2 linked regions of the Homo sapiens genome follow. The protein of the gene in region 2 purifies or fractionates together with the protein of the main gene of each other region. This does not show direct contact. Each region holds a gene or a part of one and is shown on either strand. Other genes may lie near its edges.

Region 1 (7,000 bases), on a different chromosome or scaffold from region 2:
AAAACAATTATGAAAAACTAAAAATATGTTATTTCAGAATAGTATAACACCTAGCAAAGGAATAAAATGAGGCAAAACTTAGATATGAATAAAAAAGTAATTAATATATTTTCAAATAATTTGTGAAAAGCCCATTCTAAAGGATTCCAGAATGTCTTATGGCCAAGAAAGGCTAAACCAAAATTCTGCCATGCTAGAAATGAACACAAAAGAGTAAATCTAGGCAAATAAAACTTATGGTTTAAAGAATAAGCCACCGAAATGCAAGAAATTTCCCATTAAAACAAAAACAAACAAACTCTAATAAGGCCTGGCGTGGTGGTTCATGCCTATAATCCCAGCACTTTGGGAGTCTGAGGTGCGAGGATCACTTCGAGACCAGCTTGGGCAAAAGAGTGGAACCCTGTCTCTATAAAAAATACAAAAATATGCTGGGCATGGTGGCATGCACATGTGGTCCCAGCTACTCAGCAGGCTGAGATAAGAGGATTCCTGAACCCAGGGAAGTCGAGGCTGCATTGAGCCACGATTTAACCACTGTACTCCAGTGACAACAAGATCCTGTCTAAAAAAACAAAACAAAACTCCAATAAAATGTCTGTATAATTACACACAGCATAGGTTTTTCTCGCATATAAGGTAATTATCATAACTCATTACAATTTAAAATTAATTATTGCCTTTTAAATTTCATCAAAATGAAAAAAAAAAATCCAGGGGAACAGAAAGAAGGTCAACCATGAGCTCATTAATATAGTTTCCTCATTAGTGTTACCCATTTTTCTACTAACATTATCCAAGCCCAAATAAACTCTTATATAAACATTTGAGTACACCTCCTCTATTAGATTCTTTCATACATATCCCAAGCACTTGATATACTTTATAGCCTAGGAATACAGAAGTAACTTTTGTGTCTTCAAAGCAGTTTTAAAAATACATGCCTTTGTGAGAAATGAGCTTTAAAAACAGTGCTACATTTGTATGATATATTGGGAATACAGAACCTAAGAATCTTTACTAAGGAGATAATGGTAACTAGACTACCTAGACTGCCATCTGCAACAAGAATCTGCTAAGTACCCAAATTGTAAAACCAAATCTACCACACTGCTGATCTTTTAAGGAAAGTATGTGGCTCACTTCTAATCATGTAAAAACACTAACATACCCAAGAGAAAATCACTGGTTCCAAGTACTTTAAAGAAGTTTCCCTTTGTTAGACTGCTCAGATTAGGCATCTACTGCTATTTTTGTCTTCTGTGTAGGTTTTAAGAGTTTTATAAAGCATCCACCAAACCAATGCATCTTAGAGAGAGATGCATGTATCTACATGGCGGACTTTATACAACATAACTAATCCAAGTTCCAAGGTTAGCCACCAAATCAATTCTGCAAGTCAGTTACTATGGACCTTGGCTTGTAGTACAGCATAGCAGTTAGACAAGGGGATATATACAATATATAACAGAAAAGAGAAAAGACTGGGCATTACCATAGTTAAGTTTCTGTTCGTTTGTTCAAATATTCTTCATACCACACAGAGTTATACTGAAGTATCAAAGTGGTATCAGAATGTAAGCATCTTGGTAAAATAATGATTTAACAGGCCATCAAATCGAATGGCAGGGAAACAATCTGTGCACTAGTATTTGACCTGCCTCAAACAGAAGATATTACTGTAAATAATTCTAAACATAAGCACAATTTAGTGAATAAGGTAGGAGACTGGTAGACTCTAACTTTCAGATTCAACTTATAGCTGTTCACCAGTCATCTGCTATTTTGACAAGTTACTTACCAACGTGTGCTGCCATTTCTCCGTAAATTTATCCCCTAAGATGAGGATAATTCTTGCAAATTGTGTCACAAGCATTTTGAAAGGAACCATGAGTTATTGTGTAATGCTCTTGAAATTCCTCAGATGTAGGGTCCTACACAAAGTAAAGTATTATTATACATTTCTCTAACGGTAGTCATCTGTTTGCATTATGATTTTTTTTCCTACCCTTGACACTGTGATTCTTGGGCACTAACCTTTCTCAAAGTAAAGCGTTCAAAGCAAGCCTCCACTCCTGACCCAAGTAATTACTTTTTTCAAATCTATCATCCACATCTTTCTCTTCCTTAGAAGGTATTGTGAAAACCGGGAGTTATAAAACGCAATGAGCTTCTTTGGTTTAAATGTTCTGGTTCAGTAAGAAATGTGTGGGATAATCTGGTATTTTTATTTTTAACCCACCCTTAAGTGAGTAACTTTATTTCCCATAGTTATATTTTCCTATATTACTTTTTAAATTTCAACTATATTTTAAGGAGCAGCTCGTTTATAAATTTGTTTTATGAACAGAGAGAACAGGTCAGAAAAATGAAGAAGCAAGAAAGGCAAGCCAAGTAATCACTACTATGTGACCAAAATGCTTTTATTGGAATGACTCAACAGTAGAAATTACCATTCGAGGATATGGAAAACAAAGAATCAATGCTCATCATCTTTAAAAAGAGTTCAACATAAACCACAATAAATTTTATCATACTATTAAAACTATTACCTATAAACTCTGCCAATCGAGTTAGTCTTCCATTCAGTAATACACTATACATATTTGAATTTTTTAGCTTTTGTTGGTACAATATTACATCTTGAAAATAGAACTCTCGATCTTCTTATCAGTTCTTAAAATGATTTTTAAGTTTGTGTACAAGGGGGAAGACAATAAAATATGCTGTCTTCATTGTATAAGCTTAGTTATAAGATAGTAATTTTTTAAAGATTTTTCTTGGCTGCCACAGTAGCTCATCCCTATAAATCCCAGCAATTTGGGGAAGCCAGGACAGGAGGATAGCTTGAGGACTGGAGTTTGAGACCAGACTGGGCAACATAGGGAGACCCCCTTCTCTAACAAACATAAAAAAATTGGCCAGGCCTGGTGGCTCATGCCTGTAATCCCAGCACTTTGGGAGACCGAGGTGGGCAGATCACCTGAGGTCAGGAGTTCGAGACCCCCCTGGCCAACATGGTGAAACCCTGTCTCTACTAAAACTACAAAAAAATTAGCCAGGTGTGGTGGCACACACCTGTAGTCCCAGCTACTCGGGAGGCTGAGACAGGAGAATCACTTGAACCTGGGAGGTGGAGGCTGCAGTGAGCAGAGATCACACCACTGCACGCCAGCCTGGGTAACAGAGCAAGACTCCGTTTCAAAAAAAAAAAAAAAAAAAAAAAATTAGCCAGGCATGGTGGCACATAAGTGTAGTCCCAACTACTGGGGAAGCTGAGGCAGGAGGATCACTTGAGCCCAGGAGTCCAAGGCTACAGTGAGCTATTATCACGCCACTGCACTCTACCCTAAGCAACAGAATAAGACCCCATCTCAAAAAAATATAAAAAATAAAAAACCCTCAGAATTACAATAAAATACTGATGGAAACCAGCTTCCTCAAAGGTGAACAAATATTCTTTTACCTTCTAAATGTAGCAAAGGAAAAGATTTGTGAGATTAAGGATAAAAACCACAAGATTTAGGGTGGTCTCAAGATGTGCTAGCCAAGTGACCCTATTAGTCTCTTAATCTCTTTTAACCTCAGTGTCCTCATCTGTAAAATGCGGACCATGATACCTGCCTTAGCTACATACAACTGTTGTGAGAATTAAATGAGATACTCCATTTGAAAGAATGTTGTAAAACACAAAAAACTGTTTTTTAGATAACAGGGCTTGTTTTTAAACAGAACACCACTTTATTTACAAATTATGGTCACAGAACAGTTTAGTACTGTTTCTAACATGAAACAAATGGAAATCAATGTGCAAAACATAACCATGGTCACCAAATTATACCTATGATTAGATACACAGTAAGAAAAGGATCTTGTAAAGAAAAGTATACTTCCCATACTTAAAATCTTCAGAACTGAATTTGAAAGTATAAAAAAACAACAATTCATTTAAATGGATTGGTCTAGCGCACTGAAGATTAAATATATTTGTTAGCTATAAATTTAAAAATTGAGACATTAGCTTAAAAAGTATTTTAAAGTTCTTATGAAGAAAAAAACATGAAAGTGAAACAGACATTCACTTCTCTGGAAATAATTCAGAAAAGCCAGTAGTGATAGAAAAGGACATACATATACAAGACAACAGAGATGAACATGAACATAATCTGCACCTTTAGTATAATAAAGGAATTCAGTTAAATCTTTCTGTGTGGTCCCTAAAAAGTCCAGAACAGAAACACCTCTTTTCAATAGGCCACAGGTTAAATCTATTCACTACATTGTCAGGCCAAGTCCTCCAGTAGGTTATTATGAATCTCGAGAATAATTTATCCTTAATAAGGCTACCTCTTTCTCCTTCATTCCTTATTAGTTATGGAATATGTATATTTATAAAGCCAACCTATGTAAAGAAACAATTCTTAGTTCCCTCCATTCCATGTGCTTTCTGACACAAGTTTAAAGTTCTTGTGAAGTCAGCTGGGCACGGTGGCTCACGCCTGTAATCCCAGCACTCTGGGAGGCCAAGGCGGGCAGATCACAAGGTCAGGATATCAAGACCATCCTGGCTAACACGGTGAAACCCCGTCCCTACTAAAAATATAAAAAATTACCCGGGCATGGTGGCACGCCCCTATAGTCCCACCTACTCGGGAGGCCGAGGCAGGAGAATCGCTTGAACCTGGGAGGCGGAGGTTGCAGTGAGCAGAGATCGTGCCACTGCATTCCAGCCTGGGCAACAGAGTGAGACTCTGTCTCAAACAAAACGAAACAAAACAAAACAAAACAAAAACCTCCTGGGAAATGAACTATGTTTATTACATTGTCCCAGAAATATAACCAACTTGCTCAATTACCAGAAGACTTTAAAATAAATAAGATCCAACAACTTTTTATCTTTTAATCCAGTCCTCAAATTCACAAATTTAAAAAGGGGTTGGGGAAATGACACAAATCATTAACGAATTATTCCAAATATAAATAACTTTAGTTAAAAACATTCTTAAAATTTAGTTAAAAACATTATTTAAAAAACATCTTAGGCCAGGAGCAGTGGCTCATGCCTGTAATTCCAGCACTTCGGGAGGCCAAGGCAGGCGGATCACCTGAGGTCAGGAGTTCGAGACCAGCCTGGCCAACATGGTAAAACCCCATCTCCATTAAAATATGAAAAGTAGCCAGGCATTGTGGTGGGCGCCTGTAATCCCAGCTATTCGGGAGGCTGAGGCAGGAGAATTGCTTGAACCTGGGAGGCAGAGGTTGCGGTGAGCCGAGATGGCGCCATTGCACTCCGGCCTGGGAAACAAGAGCGAAACTCTGTCTCAAAAAAAAAAATAAAAATAAAAATAAATAAATAAATAAATATTCAATCAAAGCTGAGATTAAAAGATGAAGTTCCTATCACAGCAACTACTACTTTTTGAACTTGTTTCTCTTCCCTCTGAAACCTAGGTTCACTTCAATATATCATCGAACCAGAACTTCTGATAATAAAAAGCTTTTCTCAGGATCAGGACCCCCCCCTTCTACAAAACTATTTCAGCTCCAGACTTATTTCCTAGCTGTTTATGTGATCACCAATAGAATTAAATGTAAGCCTTCATTTTCTCCCAGAAATCTTACTTTAATTCTATCCCATAATATTTCCCATCATTTAAATGTCCTAGGCTCAAAGTGCATGGCACATCATGTCTAATTTCCAGTTCTCTCCAGTTGTTCATGTATACCTTAACTCCCAACCCAGACTCTAAATTTCTCAAGACAAAGCTAATGCCTGTCACTTTTCTCTTCCACAGGCTGTGGTGTAATCGGGACAACAATGAGGCAATCCTAAAGAGGTATCCCAAATTAGGGAAACCCACTGCCCCAACTTTACATTACCAAATAATGGTTCCAGGATGAATCAAGATGATATAGATGTCACAGTGCAATCATCACAATGTCAACATGACCACAAAGAAGCCTATTCTAGCTAGTTAAGTTTCTCAGAATCTCATCTATACAGTTGGAGGCTGTTCCTGGCACTATAATCATTATACTACTAGTACACAGTGTCTACCTCTAACACTTAAACATTTTAAACCTCAGTAGACCTAAGTAACTATACTGGCAATTTCTATGTGCTGGCTTTTTACTTTCTACTTGCCCTATGGCCTTTCAGAAATTATTAAAGTAATACAGAGAGATGTTCAGTTATTTCTATGGGGCATGCTAAAGTACAAAGAACAGCAGTAGCCTCCGTACCATGAAAATCTCAACCTGAGGCAGCATTCCAAGCTAAGCAAAAATAGTAAAGGGCCCATTTGTCTCTGGAGCAGAGACAATCATCAAATGCGTATCAGTAAATTACCATTCATTTCTACCAATATGACCACCTCAATGCCTGAGATCATGAAAATCTGGTAGGAATCCATAAAATGTTCTTAGACAGGTAGAGTACAAGAAAGCTGCCATTTACTTTGAGTTCTGCAAGAATTAAAAATCTATTTTATGAATGTCACTATCATTTATCCAATAAAAAATAAATTACAAATTAAGGCAGAAGAAAATACACTAAGACCTTAACCACAAAGAAAGGATGAAAACGATACAGTATTTGCAAGTTAGAAAAGTGAGATTTGGCATGGTCGTGAGATGATGTGAAGGATGAATCGTGCCTTAATTTAATGCCTGAATATCTTAGATTACATTAATCTCTCAAAAGCTGAGTAACAACAGAAACCACCTAATTAATAAACTGATAAAATAACTGCCACAGAAAATACTGAAGTGCCATTATTGTTACAGTTAAAATAAACAGTAAGTCAGTATAGCTGCAGTCTCATCTGAATTTACCACCTGAAATCATTAACTTTTAGTTATCATAATTGAAAGCAAAACTCACATAACAATGATACTCCTAAATGTAGAAATATTTGATTTTAAAATACAATATCCAGGAACAGAACATGAAATGTGACCAAATTCCTCAAAATTCTCATTACCCTACAAATTATTTAAT
Region 2 (16,741 bases):
GGTGCACTGAAAGGTGTATATACGCTTGTGTGCCCACCCCAAGGCCCACCTTCCCCCACCGCCCCCAGGGCTCCCACTCACCAGGGCGACCGTCAAGGCCCTTTTCCTCCCGGAGCAGGAACCCAAAACCCTGGGGCCCTTTCTCCAGGTGCAGGCAGCGGGGCTTGGTGGGCAGTGCCCAGCCCTCTGCCAGGGGTGCAGCCAGGGGCAATCCCAGCTGGCGACACTGTTCTTCCACCTCTGGCCCTGCCACCAGCAAGGTCACCTGCTGTCCACTCTGCCAAAGCTGTGGGGACCCAGCAGGGCATCAGTATAACACCTGGGCAGGGAGAGAAGAGGTATGCTCCCCCCACAGCCCCTCCTCCCAGGCACTAAGTGGAGCCTGGCACAAACTGTAGAGGGGGAGGATGGTGATAAAGGTAGGAGACCAGATAAGGAGGTTAGGCGCATGGGGAAGGAGGCGTCTTCCCGAGGTGGGGCCCAGGCCCGGATTGGGGGAGGAGAGTGGGAGACAGGCAGTCACACCTTCCTGGTGAGTTGGTTGTGAGTGAACTTCTCCACACTGACCCCATTCACTTCCAGCAGCCGGGCCCCGGGGGGCACCCCTGCCCGCTCAGCTGCTCCTCCAGTACTTAGCACCAACCAGAAAGGACCCTGATTGCCTAGAAATTAAAAAAAAAAGCAAGGTCCAGTCTGTTTCCTGCCTGCCCTGAACAGGGGCTGAGATCCCTCATCCTTGCCGCCCCCTCGCACCCTCTGGGCTCACCATGGGTGACACTGAAGCCAAAACCACCCTCATCTTTCACTATGTGGCACAGCCGGGGCCGGACCCCTGGGCCTAGGGTGGGACAGAGGTGGGCATCTTCTCCCAGCTGAGCTCGGGCCACGTCATGTGCATGCCGTGCCAATACTGTCAGCAACACCCGAGGGCTGCTGGCCCGGATGCGGCGTACCACCTGGACAGAGGGCACGTGGGCGTGGGTTTGGTCTAGACCCTCTTGCCAACCCCCAGGACCTCCCTGGAATCCACATTTTTTTGCCAAGGGAATCGGCTTTTTTTCTTTTTCTTTTTTTTTTTTTTTTTTGAGATGGAGTTTTGCTCTTGTCGCCCAGGTTGGAGTGCAATGGTGCGATCTCAGCTCACCGCAACCTCCGCCTCCCATGTTCAAGTGATTCTCCTGCCTCAGCCCTCCCGAGTAGCTGGGATTACAGGCGCCTGCCACCACGCCCAGCTAATTTCTGTATTTTTAGTAGAGACAGGGTCTTGCCATGTTGGCCAGGCTGGTCTTGAACTCCTGACCTTGGGTGATCCACCTGCCTTGGCCTCCCAAAGTGCTGGGATTACAGGCGTGAGCCACTGCGCCCAGCGGGAATCGGCTTTCTAGATGCTTTCCCTACCCCTCTGACTTGGGCACTTCTAAATCCTGGGGTGTGGGGGAGTGAGGCTTGTGCCCTGCTGCCATACTGCCCAGGGGACTGAGCAACCCGCTTCTCTTTCTGAGGTGCTAGCATGCTCTCCTGGACCACAGCCTTACCACCGCATAGTCTTCGTGTTCCACAACATCATTGTTCACCGCCAGGATCCTGTCTCCTTCCTGAAGACCCTGGCGCTGGGCAGAGGTGCCTGGGTCCACCCTGCACACCACATGCCCAGCCCTGCCCAGCTCCTGCTGCAGGTGGAAGCCAAAACTCTTGCCCTCCTCTTTGCTCAGTAAACAGAAGCGAGGCCGCTCCAGGCTCCAGGGATCTGGAGGGTGAGGTGGGCAGCAGAAAAGGGGGAGGAGAGGGCACAGCCCAAGTACAGGTTCGCCGTGTGCCTGGCAGACCCTGTGTCCTGATAGGGTGCTGGGCAGTTTCTGCCTGGTTGGGTGTTGGGTGGTGGGGTTCGTGGGCAGAGGGACTGGGACAGGAGAAAACACCCGGCCCCTCCTATCTCTACTCCCAACCAAGGCTGTTATCAGAGGGAGACCGAGTGAGTGGTTACCAAGGAGATCGGAGGCCGTGTGGAGCCGTGGTGCCTCCAGGGATAGGGAATGGTTGCCAGGGGGTGAGGGAGTTACCATAGGGGTCGTGGTCTTCGGCCAGGGAGAGGACAGGATTATCAATGCCCAGCTTTGGGTTAAACTTAAACTTCCTGCAAGGAGGCAGGGGAAGCAGGTACAAGCTGGCAGCTGGACTTGGGTCCCAGGATCTCCTTTAGGTGCTAATGGCAGTGAAGCGCTTCGCTGCCTCCAATTATTTCCTCCCCTTGCCCCAACCCTCGTGGCACTTACAGAGTTAACGAGGCTGTGTCCTGCAGATCTACTGGGCAAAGAAGTGGGTGAGAGGAGGAGAGTCACATTCTTCTCCCCAGATGTGCCTCTTCCATTGGCATAAACTAAAAGGACTCAGGGAAACCCCCAAACTCAGGGCATGCCCCCTCCTTTCTGCTCCAAAGGGGTCTTCTCTTCTCACTGCCATACACACAGGACTATTGTGCGGTCCCCTCCCTTTCTCTCCCCCCAAGTCCTTGGCACATAAATCTGAGCATATCAGTACAGGGTGTGGACCAGGAAGACAGACATATCAACTCATTACTTTTCTCCTGACTTGTTTACCTGCCTCAGGGCTCCAAGCCCCAAAATCAAGTGTGCCCTGGTCCCAAAGCTTCAGCCTCCAAGTCGGCCCCCTGCCTGTCCCAAAGTCCCCTGCAGAGGATTTCTCCTGGCCTCCTACCTGCGGCTTTCTCCATAGCTGGATCAGCAACCCAGTGCCCGGGGTAGGGACAAGGTTCATCACAGCCACTGATCCTCCCACCCATCCCCTCCCAGGTCCCGCCTCCTTGAAGACGCTGTGGAAGCAGTGGGGTAATGGTTAACGGGAGTGAGAGTCTTTTTTTTTTTTTTTTTTTTTTTTTTTTTTTGAGACCGAGTTTAGCTCTTGTTGCCCAGGCTGGAGTGCAATGGCATGATCTTGGCTCATCATAACCTCTGCCTCCCAGGTTCAAGCAATTCTCCTGCCTCAGCCTCCCGAGTAGCTGGGATTACAGGCATGCACCACCACACCTGGCTAATTTTGTATTTTTAGTAGAGATGGGGTTTCTCCATATTAGTCAGGCTGGTCTCAAACTCCCCACCTCAGGTGATCTGCCCTCATCGGCCTCCCAAAGTGCTGGGATTACAGGCGTCAGCCACCGTGCCCCGCTGAGAGTCTTATCCTCTGGAAAACTGTGTGGGTTCCTCCTGAATCTATCCCTGGGCCCCAACTTTTTCTGGAGACCCTGAATCTGACCCAGTTGCCCCTCTGTGCAGAGAAAGGCAGATTGCTGGTCACTAACTCCAAGCCTGGGGGGTAAGTGTGAAAAGGGTGATAATTCTATGGCCCATAGTATGGTTTGGCTGTGTCCCTACCCAAATCTCATCTTGAATTGCAGCTCCCATAACTCCCTCGTGTCATGGGAGGTACCCGGTGGGAGGTAATTAAATCACAGGGGCAGGTTTTCCCGTGCTGTTTTCATGATAGTGAATAAGTCTCATGAGATTTGATGGTTTTATAAAGGGGAGTTCCCCGGCACACACTCTCTTGCCTGCTGCTATGTAAGATGTGACTTTGCTCCTCATTTGCCTTCTGCCACGATTGTGAGGCCTCCCCAGCTATGTGGAACTGTGAGTCAATTAAACCTCTTTCGTTTATAAATTTTTTTTTTGACAGAGTTTCACTCTTGTTCTCCAGGCTGGAGTGCAGTGGCACTATCTCGGCTCACGGCAACCTCCACCTCCTGGGTTCAAGCAATACTCTTGCTTCAGCCTCTCGAGTAGCTGGGATTACAAGCATGTGCCATCACACCCAGCTAATTTTGTATTTTTAGTAGAGACGAGGTCTATCCATGTCGGTCAGGCTGGTCTCAAACTCCTGACCTCAGGTGATCCGCTCACCTCGGCCTCCCAAAGTGCTGGGATTACGGGCGTGAGTCACCATGCCCAGCCTCCTTTATAAATTACTTACCCTGTCTTGGGTATGTCTTTATTAGCAGCGTGAGACTGGACTAATACAGCCCAGCATGGCCAACCCCCATGCCAATATCTTGTTCATGGGCCCTTCCAGCCTCCACTGCCTCTGAACCTAGTGCCCAAGAACCACTTGCAATAGATCATGGTTGGTAGTTTAACCAGAAAGACCAAGAACAGTGCCCTTTCTTGGAAGCACCAGGCAGTAAAGAAGAGGCCACAATTGGTAGAAGGCACACGGCTTTTTAATAGCAGCAAGTCAGGTGCATCTGCCTCGAGGGGCTACCAAGCCATCATACCATTGTGGCAAAGGGGGCATGAGGATGAGGAGAAAGCACCAATGTGAGGGCATCCTCGGTGTCCACAGGTGAGCATAAGGCAGGAGGGGAAGCTTCCAACACATCTGGATGGCGACACCCCTGGCATGGCAGACATAAGATGTGAGCCCCTTGGTGACACAGTCAGAGGCTCTTTGAGAGGAGGGGGAGGCAAGGTTGGTAGTGGTGCTTCAGGGCACTCTGGCCATCCAAATGCCACATGCTTTGGTCCTTCTAGCTGAATGGAGAGGAGGCATGTTCCATCTCCAAGCCCGAAGCATTGATTCACCATCTTTAACTTGGAGATTCCAGACTCAGTCCTGGTCAAACATGCCCTAGGAGGGCAACTGGCTCAGCTATGCCCATTCCTCTGCCTCCAGACCTGAAGGAATCTTTCTAGAGGGAGCAGTGCAAGCCAGGAGGCCACAGAGGGAAAAGGTTTAGGGCCAGTGGTCACATAGCTAGGTGCCTGCCGCCAGTGTCTCAGCTTCCAGAGCTTCCCAGCTGCTCCAGGAGGGCCCTGACCTCGCCCTCCACTCGCAGCAGCTGGGCCTTGCGCCAAGGATTAAGGGTGGCACCCCGGCTATCTTCCAGATCCCGCAGTAGGAGCTCAAGGTGTCGCTGAACCCGGGCCCGATCCCAGCTATTGAGGTTCCGCTGGACTTCACTGAGGATCACTGACCAGTATTCTGACACCGCCGTCCCCTCTGTCAGTGACACCACCACCCGGGCACCACCTTCAGCAGCACCCCCCAAGTCTCGCAAGACCTGGCGGCCCTCTGAGCTCAGCTCATTGAAGTAGAGGCTGGCAGGAGAGAGAAAGTCGATGCCATTCAGTAGAGCTCTGAGAAGGAGGGCCCGAGGGTAGATGGATGGAAAGTCAGGGGGCCTCACAACTCATCTCCTGGCTGCAGAGTGCGATCAGGTAACTGCAATGAGCCAGAGGTGGAGGCTGCTGGCCAGTGGGAGGCAGGGACTAATACTAAAATTCTTTTTTTTTTTTGTTTTTGTTTTTGTTTTTGTTTTTGTTTTTTTTGAGATGGAGTCTTGCTCTGTCACCCAGGCTGGAGTGCAGTGGCATGATCTCGGCTTACTGCAACCTCCACCTGCCGGGTTCAGGTGATTCTCCTGCCTCAGCCTCCCAAGTAGCTGGGATTACAGGTGCGCACCACCACACCCAGATAATTTTTGTATTTTTAGTAGAAACGGGGTTTCACCATGTTGGCCAGACTGGTCTTGAACTCCTGACCTCAGGTGATGTGCCCGCCTTGGCCCCCCGAAGTGCTGGGATTACAGACGTGAGCCACCACAGCCGACCCTGATACTAGAATTCAGTGGGACCAGAGACAGTAGGGCTTTAGGAGAAATGGTGGTAGGGAATTGGTGCAGTTTAAGCGCCAGTCACAGAGGGGGTGGGTTGGCTCAGAGCTAGGTTGACAAGGATCAGTCAGAAACCAGGAATAAAGGACAGGCACCAGGCCCAGGCCCAGAAGCACTCCCTAGGATTGGAGGAGCACAGTTGAGAGAGGGAAGTAGTCTGAAGGGCTGGGGGCAATGGGACCAGGGACAGGACTCACTGTAGCAGTTCCAGGGAAGGGTGCTCCCGGGCAGCTCTGGCCAGGGCCAGGGCCGCTGTGTCACCAGCACCGTTGTACGCCACGTTCAGCTCCTGCAGCTGCCGGTTGCGGTCCAGCTGGGCAGCCAGCAGCTCCAGGCCTTCGTCCCCAAGGCCCGTGTGCAGCAGGGACAGGTGCGTCACTGAGGTGTTTCCTGCCAGCCCCTCCATTAGCACGGCAACACCTGCCGCCGTCAGCGGGTTGTTGGACAGCCTACAGCCACGTGCAACCCAAGGTTATGAGGGCTCATTGAGAGGAGGGGGAGGCAAGGTTGGGGGTGGTACTGGCAGCCTTAATGGGGCAGCCCTGTGCTGGGTGTCAGGACTTGGGCCAAAGAGGGCCCTGCATGGGGCAAGAGGAACCTGGACATAGAAATGCAGGCCCAGGAGAAAGGCTGGAGCAATAGGGGGTGTGGCGCCTGGCAGAGGAGTCAGAGTAGGGGAGCTGGCCTTTCCTTCCCTCTTCCCCTGACTCCCTTCTTATCTATTCCCTTCCTTTTCACCATTTCCGTTTCCCTTTTTCTGCCTTTTTCACCCCCTCCACAGCCTCTGCTTCTCCCTCCCCTCTGACTCCCCTATCCTTCTCCCTGCTCTTCCTTTTTCTCTCCTCATTTGCCTCCCCTTACACCAATCAGAAACTGGGAACCCAGGAGCTCAGGTTCCCCACATATCAGTCAACACTTAAGGGGTGTCTACTGAGTGCCCAGCATTAGGGTCCTCCTCGGGAGGCTGCAAGAAAAATCCTGGGAGGGGATCAGTGGCACTGTTACCAGGCAACCGGCCTAGGTATTATTCCACCCTCTCTCCCCACCTCCCCCAGGCTGATTTTAGCCACGTGAGAGGTTTCTTAGCACCCATTACAGGTGGCATGTTTCCCTGCTGCCCTGCTGCTTGCAGTGGACCTGGGGGAAGTGGAGGGGACAGGTCAGGGCCTAGACTCTCCTCCATTTACTATCCCTTGGGTGGGTCTGTGCCAAGTATGTCAGGAAGCAGGGAGCTCACCCTTGACCTTAGCTGGCCACCAGGATGCCCCACTCCCAGGTCACTCACCGCAGTGTGGTAATTTGGCACTGGTCATGCAGCAACAGGTCTCGGAGGTCCTTGCAGGCCTCAGGGCCCAGGCTGTTGAGTTGCAAGCTGGAGCAGAAGGTGGCCAGAGGGGAGGTGAGAGACCAGGGAGGGAATTCAGCAGGCAGTCTGTCCATCTACCATGCCTTTTTTTCATCAGCCTGCCTCTGGGAATCTATACCTGCTTCCCCTTTTTTGAGAGACAGGGTCTCACTCTGTTGCCCAGGTTGGAGCACAATGGCATGATCACAACTCACTGCAGCCTCAGACTCCTGGGCTCAAGCAATCCTCCCACCTCAGCCTCCCGAGTAGCTGGGATGATAGCTACATGCCACCACACCTGACTAATTTTTTAATTTTTTGTAGAGACAGGGTCTTGCTATGTTGCCCAGGATGGTCTCAGACTATTAGGCTCAAGTGATGCTTCTGCCTTGGCCTCCCAAAGCAGTGGGATTACAGGCAGGAGCCACCATGCCTGGCTCCTCCCTTCTGTTGCTCCTGTCACCTCCACCCAAACTAGACTTTTTTTTTTTTTTTTGAGACGGAGTTTTGCTGTTGTTGCCCAGGCTGGAGTGCGATGGCATGATCTCAGCTCACCGCAACCTCCGCCTCCCAGGTTCAAGCAATTCTCCTGCCTCAGCCTCCCAAGTAGCTGGGATTACAGGCATGCACCACCATGCCTGGCTAATTTTGTATTTTTAGTAGAGACAGGGTTTCTCCATGTTGAGGCTGGTCTCGAACTCCTGACCTCAGGTGATACGCCCGCCTTGGGCTCCCAAAGTGCTGGGATTACAGGTGTGAGCCACTGCTCCCGGCCCCTAAACTAGACTTCTTCATCCCACCTTCTGGTCACTCATCGGTACCTCTGGTTTCCCTGGCACTTTCTTTTCCCACTTCTTCACCTCCAACCCTCTTCCCTCTTCATGCCTGTGCATGAGGATAGGTCCTCACCCCAGCTTCCGGGCACGCAGGAAGACAGGCAGGAGTGTGCGCAGCCCAGCAGGATCTAGCTGGCAGGAGGCCAAGTTCACCTCATCCAGGGCATGCCTTCCGCTGCCCAGCACAGCTGCCACCACTGTGCACTTGACTGGTGTCATGCGCACACCTGCCAGGTTGAGCTGACGCAGGGAGCTGAGCACCTCAGCGGAGAAGCGCTGGTTCTGGAACTCATAGTGGAAGAAGAGGTGGTCAAGGAGCTCTGATGGGGGCAGCACCTGCCGGCCCAGCTTGCCCAGCTTCTTCTTGATGGCCTGGGCATTCTCCAGGGCATCCAGGTTCTTGATGGGGCAGCCAAGCTGAGCTAGCACAGCTCGGTTGTGGGCAGAGAGAAGCCCCCCCATGAACATGGGGAAGAGCTCGAAGACTTCATCCTCAGGGGGCTCATCTGGGTGGCGCCGGGGGCCCTCCACGCCCAGGATACTGGCGCCCATCTGGTCCAGAACATCATCGTTGTAGTAGTCCTCCTCTCGAAACATCTCCAGCACCATGGCCTGAGCCACCGCCTCCCGGCTTTTACCCACCATGCGCCCAAACACTCGTGGAACCACCTGAAAAAGAAGCAGGGGAGAGTCACTGTGGCCTTCCATGTGCCTGTTCAGCCTTCAAGGTTCAGCTTAAGGTACACTCCCATGACTGCTCCAGCCCTGTGATCTCCCCTTGAACTTAGCATAATTTGTCTGATCATGCTACTCCCCTGCTGCGACACCTTCCATGGCTCCCTACTGCCTATGTGGCAAACTCCAAACATTTAGCCTGGAATATGAAACGTTTCTTAAAACTAGAGATGGGGTCTTGCTGTGTCACCTAAGCTGGTCTTGAACTTCTGGGCTCCCTAGCTTAGGCCCCCCAAAGTGCTAGGATTATAGGCATAAGCCACTGCACCTGGCCCAAAACTTTTCATAATTTGGCCCTAATTTGACCTTTCCAGGGTCATCTCTCAACACCTGTCTCATGTGCTGCAGACATTAGGAACTTCTTTCTCTTTCCCAAACACCCTGATACATTTTCAAACCCAGGAGGTGGTGAGAAGGAATTAGCATGTATTACACACTTAGTTTGGGACCGGGCTAGGTATCACAAATACATCACCATCTTCAACATGCAGTTCCTACTGCTTTAAGGGCCTGTGTGATCTGGGCCCTGCCGACTACGATGCCTTCATCACAAGCCTCTTGGCCCCACTCGCTATGCTCCTGCCCTTTCGGCTTTTTTCATCTTAACAGTGCCAAGGTTTTTCCTCCTTCAAAGCCTCCATAGGCCAGGTGCAGTGGCTCATGCCCGTAATCCCAGCACTTAGGGAGGCCGAGGTGGGAGGATCACTTGAGCCCAGGAGTTCTAGACCAGCCTGGGCAATGTAGCAAGATGCCATCTCTATTAAAAAAATTTTCTTAATTAAAAATAAATTAGCCAGGCATGGTGGCATGTGCCTGTAGTCCCTTGAGCACTGGAGGTCAGGGATGCAGTGAGCTGAGATCACACCACTGAACTCCAGCCTGGGCAACAGAGCAAGACCCTGTCTCAAGAGAAAAAAAAAAAAAAAAAGCCTCCAGGGTGCTGCCCTTTCCTGGGGCATTTCCCCTCCCCCAACTTCTTCCTTTGGCTAATGCTACAAGGGTCAGACGACATGCCCTTCCACAAAGAGGCTCTCCTGACCCCGCAGACCAGTTCCCCCACTATACACTTTCATGGCATCTGGGGCTCCTTCTTCCCAGGCATTTGCTGTAATTTTTCCTTATATGGTTACATTGATATTTTTGTGCTCAAACTGTGCAGGAAGTAGCAGTTTCCTTCTGGGAGAGGAGCTCAGACTAGATCAGAAAGGGCTGAAACCTGTAGTTTTGTTAACTGACATTTCCTCAGATTCTAACACATTGCCTGGCACACAGCAGGCACTCAAATATCTGACAAAGAAATAAATGTTGGGGGTTTGTGATATCTTCCCCCATTCCTGCAATGGTTCTGAAAGGGAAGAAGGGTCATTCCTCTGGCAACAAACCATGACGTTGTTTTGTGGCACGTCCTTTAACATCTGGGTTTTTTTTACTTTTTAATGTTTTAATTTTTATTTGTTTAGAGACAGAGTCTTGCTGTGTCACCTAGGCTGGAGTGCAGTGGTGTGATCATAGCTCACTGTAGCCTTTAACTCTTAGGCTCAAGCGATCCTCCTGCCTTGGCCTCCTGACAGCTGTGACTACAAGTGTGCCCCACTGCACCTGGCTTGTTTTCATGTTTATATGTGAGGTTACTCTCATAGAGGTGATAGTGCCCCTTCTCCAACACCAACCTGTGACAGAATATGTCACCCTGTGAAGCTGAATCCACAGGATGGTGAATAAACAGATGGGCTCAGTGCTCTGCCAGGGCAACCCTCCCTCCAAGAGGGCTTGGGGGTGCAGGGCTGACAATTCTGCTGGGTTTTCAATAACTGGGGGCTTTCTGAATCCCCTCGGGAGACTGCAGCCTCTCGTTGCAACTCAGGTCCGGCAGGCACATCCTCAAGGCGGGGTGGCCTCAGCAGCAGCTGTGACCTCCTGTCGGAGGTGATGTGTGAGAAGGGGTGGGCTGCCCGAGCCTGTTTCTTTGTTTCTTTCTTTTTTCTTTTTTTTTTTTTGTGAGACAGAGTCTCGCTCTGTCACCCAGGCTGGAGTACAGTGGCGCGATCTCAGCTCACTGCAACCTCCACTTCCTGGGCTCAAGAGATTCTCCTGCCTCAGCCTCCCGAGTAGCTGGGATTACAGACACGTGCCACCACACCCGGCTAATTTTTGTATTTTTAGTAGAGATGGGGTTTCACCATGTTGGCCAGGCTGGTCTGGAACTAAGTCTGTTTCTATGTGTGACAAACAATTAAACAGCATAGGCCGGGCGTGGTGGCTCACTCCTGTAATCCCAGCACTGTGGGAGGCTGAGGTGGGTGGATCACCTGAGGTCAGGAGTTCAAGACCAGTCTGGCCAACATGGAGAAACCCTGTCTCTACTAAAAATACAAAAATAAGCCGGGCATGGTGGCAGGTGCCTGTAGTCCCAGCTACTTGGGAGGCTGAGCTGGGAGAATCACTTAAATCCGGGAGGTGGAGGTTGCAGTGAGCAGAGACGGTGCCACTGCACTCCAGCCTGGGCGACAGAGCGAGACTCCATCTCAAAAAAACAAACAAACAAAAAACAATTAAATAGCACTTACCATGTCCTAGACCCTGAGGATGAGTTCATTTCATCTTCATATTAGGCCAGTGATATAAGTTCTAGTATTATCTCCATTTCACAGATAAGGAATCTGAGGCACAGAACTAAGTAACCTGTCCAAAGTCTCACAGCTAATAAGTAGCAGAGCCTGGATTTGAACTCAAATAGCTGAGTTACCAAATCCCTGTTCTTAGCCCTTATGCTTTGGTGCCTATAAAAATAAAAAGTTGGCTGGGCACAGTGGTTCACACCTGTAGCCCAGCACTTTGGGAGGCCAAAGTGAGAGGATCACTAGTGAGACCCCATCTCTACAAAATTAAAAATTTTTTATTTTTTAATTTAATTTAATTTTGTTATTATTATTTTTTTATTTTTGAGAGGGAGTCTCTGTTGCTCAGGCTGGAGTGCAGTGGCGCAATCTTGGCTCACTGCAACCTCTGCCTCCCAGGCTCAAGCAATTCTCCCGTCTCAGCCTCCCAAGTAGCTGGGATTACAGGCACCCGGCACCACACTTGGTTAACCATGTTGGCCAGGTTGGTCTCAAACTCCTGACCTCAGGTGATCTACCTGCCTCGCCTCTCAAAGTGCTGGGATTACAGGCGTGAGCCACTGCACCCGGCTACAAAATTAAAATTTTAAAAATTAGCTGGGGATGGTGGCACATGCCTGAGGTCCCAGCTACTCAGTGAAGTTGAGGTGGGAGGATTGCTTGAGCCCAGAAGGTCGAAGCTGCAGTGAGCTATGATTGCACCACTGCACTCTAGGCCTGGGCAACAGAGTAAGACTCTGTCTCAAAAAATAAAAATAAAAATACATTTAAATTTTTAAAAAGTGTTGAAATTCTGCCAGCACTAACCAGCACTCTGCCTCCTCAAAATGCGTTGCTGAAACATTCCTAGAGAAAACAAAGGTTACCTAGCAAGGTCCCACAGCTCGACAGACATATCCGTAATGCACCAGTATAGTTTGGCAGAAAGAGCACAGGATTCAGAATCACAAAGCCCTGGGCTTTTAAACTTACTATTTGAGTGATCTTGGACAAGTTACTTTACCTCTCTGAGCCTCAGTTTATTCATCTATAAAAGGGATCATAATAGTATTTCCTTTCCAGGAGTAATGTGAAAAACAAAAGGATGAACACTGATAACGCGCCTGGCACACATCACACAGAGTGGCTCCTTCCAGCCCTCAAAGACCTCGCTCAGCTGTGCCACTCACAGCACAGTCCTCAGGTCTGTAATTTGGTTTCTGGAGTGGACCTGCCCTCATGATGACTCCCCTAAGCCAATTACCAATGCCATTTATCTTCCTAGTATAAATGAATAAAATGGCATCTGCTTTATAAACCCGTCTCTGGTGATTTAGTTAGGATGAGTCATCACTCTCAGAGCCTAATCACCTCTGGAGGAGCAGACACAATCGAGTTTCTGGACCTGCAAAGCAGAGGATAGGCCTGCCTCCTAGGAGGAAAGACACAAAAAGGAAACCATTTTTAGGAATCCATGTAGCATTATTATTAAAGTCCCCACGTCCCCAGGTTCCCTTCCCCAGCCACCAAGCCTTCCCCAGCCTTGTGGCTTCTCTCTCTGCAATCCCACTAAAAGCCAAAATGCTCAGAGCTGAAACCAGATCCAGGGAGAAGATTCATACCTTTGCAGGAAGCAGCAGTTTCCTGCTGGGAGAGGAGCAAGGGGTGAACAGGGAACCATGTGGGGGCGTGGGCGGCTTGGGGTGCTGGGGAGGGAAGGAGCAGGTTGGGGGGTTACCTTGATCGGGATGTTACCTTGATCAGGTTGAAGAGCAGAGGCAGAGCCCGCAGAGGCAGCAGCTTGGCCATGATGCCCAGTACCAGGCTGACGTCCTCCCCAACACGGCCCACGAGCTCAGCCACTTCCTTGCCCACCTTTTGCAGGGTCGTCTTGCGCAAACCCAGCACAATGTAGAGGGCAGCCAGGTATTCCTGCATGGCGGGCACGGTGAACACGAAGGTGCCTGCACGCCCTGGCTCCACACATGGGGCCAGGAAAAACCTCAGGGCATCCCGACGGAAGATGTGCAGCAGCTGAAACTCCTCCTCCGTCCTGATGCCAGCCTCCAGGCAGCCACAGACATCCTCTTCAGAGAAGTAGGTCTTGCGGGAGGACACCCCCTCATAGGCCAACTTGCCCATGGTTCGGGCTGCATAGGCCATCAGGGACAAATTGGAGGGGTCAGTGCTGTCCAGGGTTTCCCCGCTGAAGTTGAGGCGCAGGAAGCTGGTATAGATGCTTGTAAGGGTCTGCCCAGCAGGCGTGGGGGCATGCAGGAAGTGCAAGGTGGCACAAACGAGCCAGCAATAGGACGGCAGGAAGCAGGCAGCGGCTATCTGGTGGTGCCCCTCCAGGTTCCGGGAGAGCATCTGCACCAGGTGGTCACGCTGAGCTGGTGTGGCAGAGACACCTGAACCGCCAACGGCATACCCGCAGTACGGCTGGTTGAGGCGGAGCTGGAAGTAGAGCTTCTGCAGGTTGGTATCAGAGAAACCGCAGATCTCACCATAGCGGCCCACGTACTTGCTGGGGATACGGCCAATGGCAGAGGGCCGAGTGGTCACCAGAATGCTGGCCTGGGAAGAGCATGGTTGAGAGTTAAGAAAGACCTTAGTGTCCTGTTGACTGCTTCTATTCCCAGGGGACCCCTGAAGACGGAGTGTCCAAGGATGAAGACATTGATGAGGATAACAGTTATAACTAGCAATTACTGAACACCTGCTGTGATCCAGGCCGCTGTGCTAATATTATATGCAGTACCCCATTTGATCAGAGCAACTCAAAAAGAAAGGAACAGAAGGCTGGGGAAGTTACTGACTTGCTCAGGGTCGCACCACTGGGAAGTGAAGGGACCAGGAGTTAAAGTAACCCAGGACCTAGGGGGCGAGTCAACGGGCAGCAGTGATAACCTGGGGTAAAGGGCCACCCACCTGAGGCAGCATGTATTTGCGCAGCAGGTTGACGATGATAGCAGCTGGTTCCTGCGGTTCCTCCGGGTCACTACAAAGTCCCGTGCCTGCCAGCCGGAAGTCGAGGTTGAGATGCTCTAAGCCATGGAGCACAAAGAGGAGGTGGGACCCAGCAGCAGCCATCAGGGGCAGAACCTCCTTCAGGGGCGTGTAGCGCTGGGCCACAAGTTGGCACAGGGAGGCTGGGGCAGGGCCCAGGGATGACAGGTCCTCACAGGAGAAGGGGATGAGCAGCTCGAAGGCCGGCAGCCGCCCATAACACCAGTCCAGAACCATCTTGCGCACCAGCGTGCTCTTGCCTGTGCCCACTGTCCCATACAGCACCACTGTCTGCACCCGGCGCCCACAGGCATCCGGGTTAAAGAGCTGAGACAAGGCCAGTGGGGGGAGCCCGGCCTGGGGTGGCTGATGCTCCAGGGCCAGCTCCGCGGGTGGGCGAAGTAGCTCATCAGGGGTACTCTCGCGGATCACAGGGTCAACGTGGACCGTGTCTAGGGCAAAGGTTGGGCCAAACTGGCGCTCCTCCCTGGGCAGCCGGCTGAACCACTCAGCCAGGTTCCGGCGGTGCCGCTGTATAGCTTCTGAGTGGGAAGATAAGGGAAATGTGTCAGGGAAAGGGGCCTGGAGATGTAGCTTAGGGCCAATCAGGGCGGTGGTGAGGTCAGGCTGGGACATCACGGCATAGATGCTGGGGCCCACAATGGTGGGCACACAAGACTCCCTGAGAAAATATAGACTGTCCAGAAAGTCTGGAACCCCTATGTCAGAAAGTGGGAAGCCACTGGACAAACTGGTTTCACAGTGACCTATGTGCCGTCTTAACCTGCTTGACCCAACTTTGTTGAGCATAGGGATGGTATGGCTCTCCTAGCGCTTTGTACATATAAGTGTGCATTGCAAGAGTATTGCAGGAAGGGATACATAGACGGATGGGAGGGAGAGAGAGAGAGGAGGAGGGACCACCGATGGAAGATGGCAGTGGATCCTCTATGCCTCCCTCACCCTGCTTCTCCTTCCAGCCCCGTCTGCCCACCACACCCCCTGACCAGGGTCCCAGCCAGTCCCTTTACCAGTTGCAGAGGCGCTGGGGAACAGCCGTCCATGCCTCCCGGGTGGGGGAGCGCTATCTACCGAGCTTCCGTGGTGGCGTATAAAGGCCCTGGGAACAAGGAGAGGGGATGAGCTGGGACTTGTAACTTGGATCAGCCCCTTCACAGGCTCTGGGTCCAAGCCTATCTGCACTGCTAGACTTCTGGTTTCCTGAGATAAAGGCCCCACACTGGACCCCCAAGTTTAGAGGCTTGTCTGACTCTCACACCCTTCCCAGGTGCTGAGGCCTTAGCCCTAGCCCTCCAGACCCCACTGCTGACTGCCCGCCTGGAACTCAGGCTGGCCATGTGAGGCTCCACCCACTTCCCACAGGGTCCTCCCTCCACTGACTACTATGCCTTCTACCACAGATGATCTAAGCCAACTTCCTCTCAGGCCTTGGAGCTGCCACTGTCCTCCCACCCCCAAAGGACCAAGCCCCTCCCCAAGGTCCCCAAGAGATCAAGCTAGCCCCAAGTCCTGACCCTTCCCAGTCTGCTCTGTTGTGCCCAGACTAGTCCTAAGGTATGACACCCAGGCCTCACCTAGGGGGCCCAAAGGGACGCTCCCCTTGAAGGGGCCAACTCCAGTGGATCAGGAAGGGGATACGATCATCTACAGAGAGAAGGAAGAAATAGCATCTGCAGATCCCATGCAATACACAGAACCCATGTCTACATCAAACCCCCCAGTATTTGCTCTCATAGCAGCATGTACTGCCCCTTTGCAGCAGTTATTTTGCAATTTTATATTTCATTGTGTGATTATTCGATTAACATTCATTCCTCTCTCCTCCATGAGAGGGATCACATTTGGGTGTTTTAAAATTTTTTTGTCCCCTTTACGTCTGTTTTTGTTCACAATTATTTACTTAGAACTTAACACCAGGTCTGCGGTACGGCAGGCACTCAGTAAATCTCTGTTGTATGTAAAGTAAAATCAGACAAGTTCCTAGACTTATGTAGCTACAAGAGACTCTCGAAGATGATCTAGTCCAACTCTCTTTTTTTTTTTTTGAGACAGAGTCTTACTCTATTGTCCAGGCTGGAGTGCAATGGTGCGATCTCAGCTCACTGCAACTTCTGCCTCCCGGTTCAAATGATTCTCCTGCCTCAGCCTCCCAACTAGCTGGGATTACAGGTGTGCACCACTACACCTGGTTAATTTTTTTTTTTGTAGTTTTAATAGAGACAGGGTTTCACCATGTTGCCAGGCTGGTCTCAAACTCCTGATCTTGTGATCCGCCTGCCTCGGCCTTCCAAAGTGCTAGGATTACAGGCATGAGCCACCGCACCTGGCCAAGTCCAACTCCCTTATTTTAGGTTGGGAAAAAGGCAGCTGAGGAAGGTGAAGCGACATGCTCAAGGTCAACAGCTAGAGAACCACGGAGCTGAGACTAGTGCACCTGGTGTCTGGATCCCTGCTGTCTTGGAGGCATCATGTGGACCCTGGAAAGCAAGAAAGAGGTAAAAACAGAAACCCCTGC

What was found.
Region 1: the proteins of NLRX1 (region 2) and HERC4 purify together in Homo sapiens (affinity purification with mass spectrometry; 2 studies listed by BioGRID and IntAct, with this or other methods). This does not show direct contact.

What each region holds. Positions count from the first base shown.
Region 1 is NC_000010.11:68,065,284-68,072,283, forward strand, and holds part of HERC4 (probable E3 ubiquitin-protein ligase HERC4), read right to left. Parts: intron 5,317-7,000; coding exon of another isoform or gene 5,210-5,316; exon of another isoform or gene 2,406-5,209; intron 1,935-2,405; exon of another isoform or gene 1,818-1,934; coding exon of another isoform or gene 1,802-1,817; intron 1-1,801. UniProt on the Homo sapiens protein: Probable E3 ubiquitin-protein ligase involved in either protein trafficking or in the distribution of cellular structures. Required for spermatozoon maturation and fertility, and for the removal of the cytoplasmic droplet of the spermatozoon.
Region 2 is NC_000011.10:119,171,485-119,188,225, reverse strand, and holds the end of NLRX1 (NLR family member X1 isoform 1 precursor), read right to left. Parts: intron 15,871-16,741; coding exon 15,801-15,870; intron 15,326-15,800; coding exon 15,237-15,325; intron 14,748-15,236; coding exon 14,128-14,747; intron 13,774-14,127; coding exon 12,952-13,773; intron 8,534-12,951; coding exon 7,938-8,533; intron 7,056-7,937; coding exon 6,969-7,055; intron 6,133-6,968; coding exon 5,881-6,132; intron 5,109-5,880; coding exon 4,787-5,108; 3' UTR 4,406-4,786; coding exon of another isoform or gene 4,246-4,405; 3' UTR 4,210-4,245; downstream 1-4,209. Other genes in the region: NHERF4 (Na(+)/H(+) exchange regulatory cofactor NHE-RF4), read right to left, coding at 82-286, 526-662, 767-956, 1,536-2,063.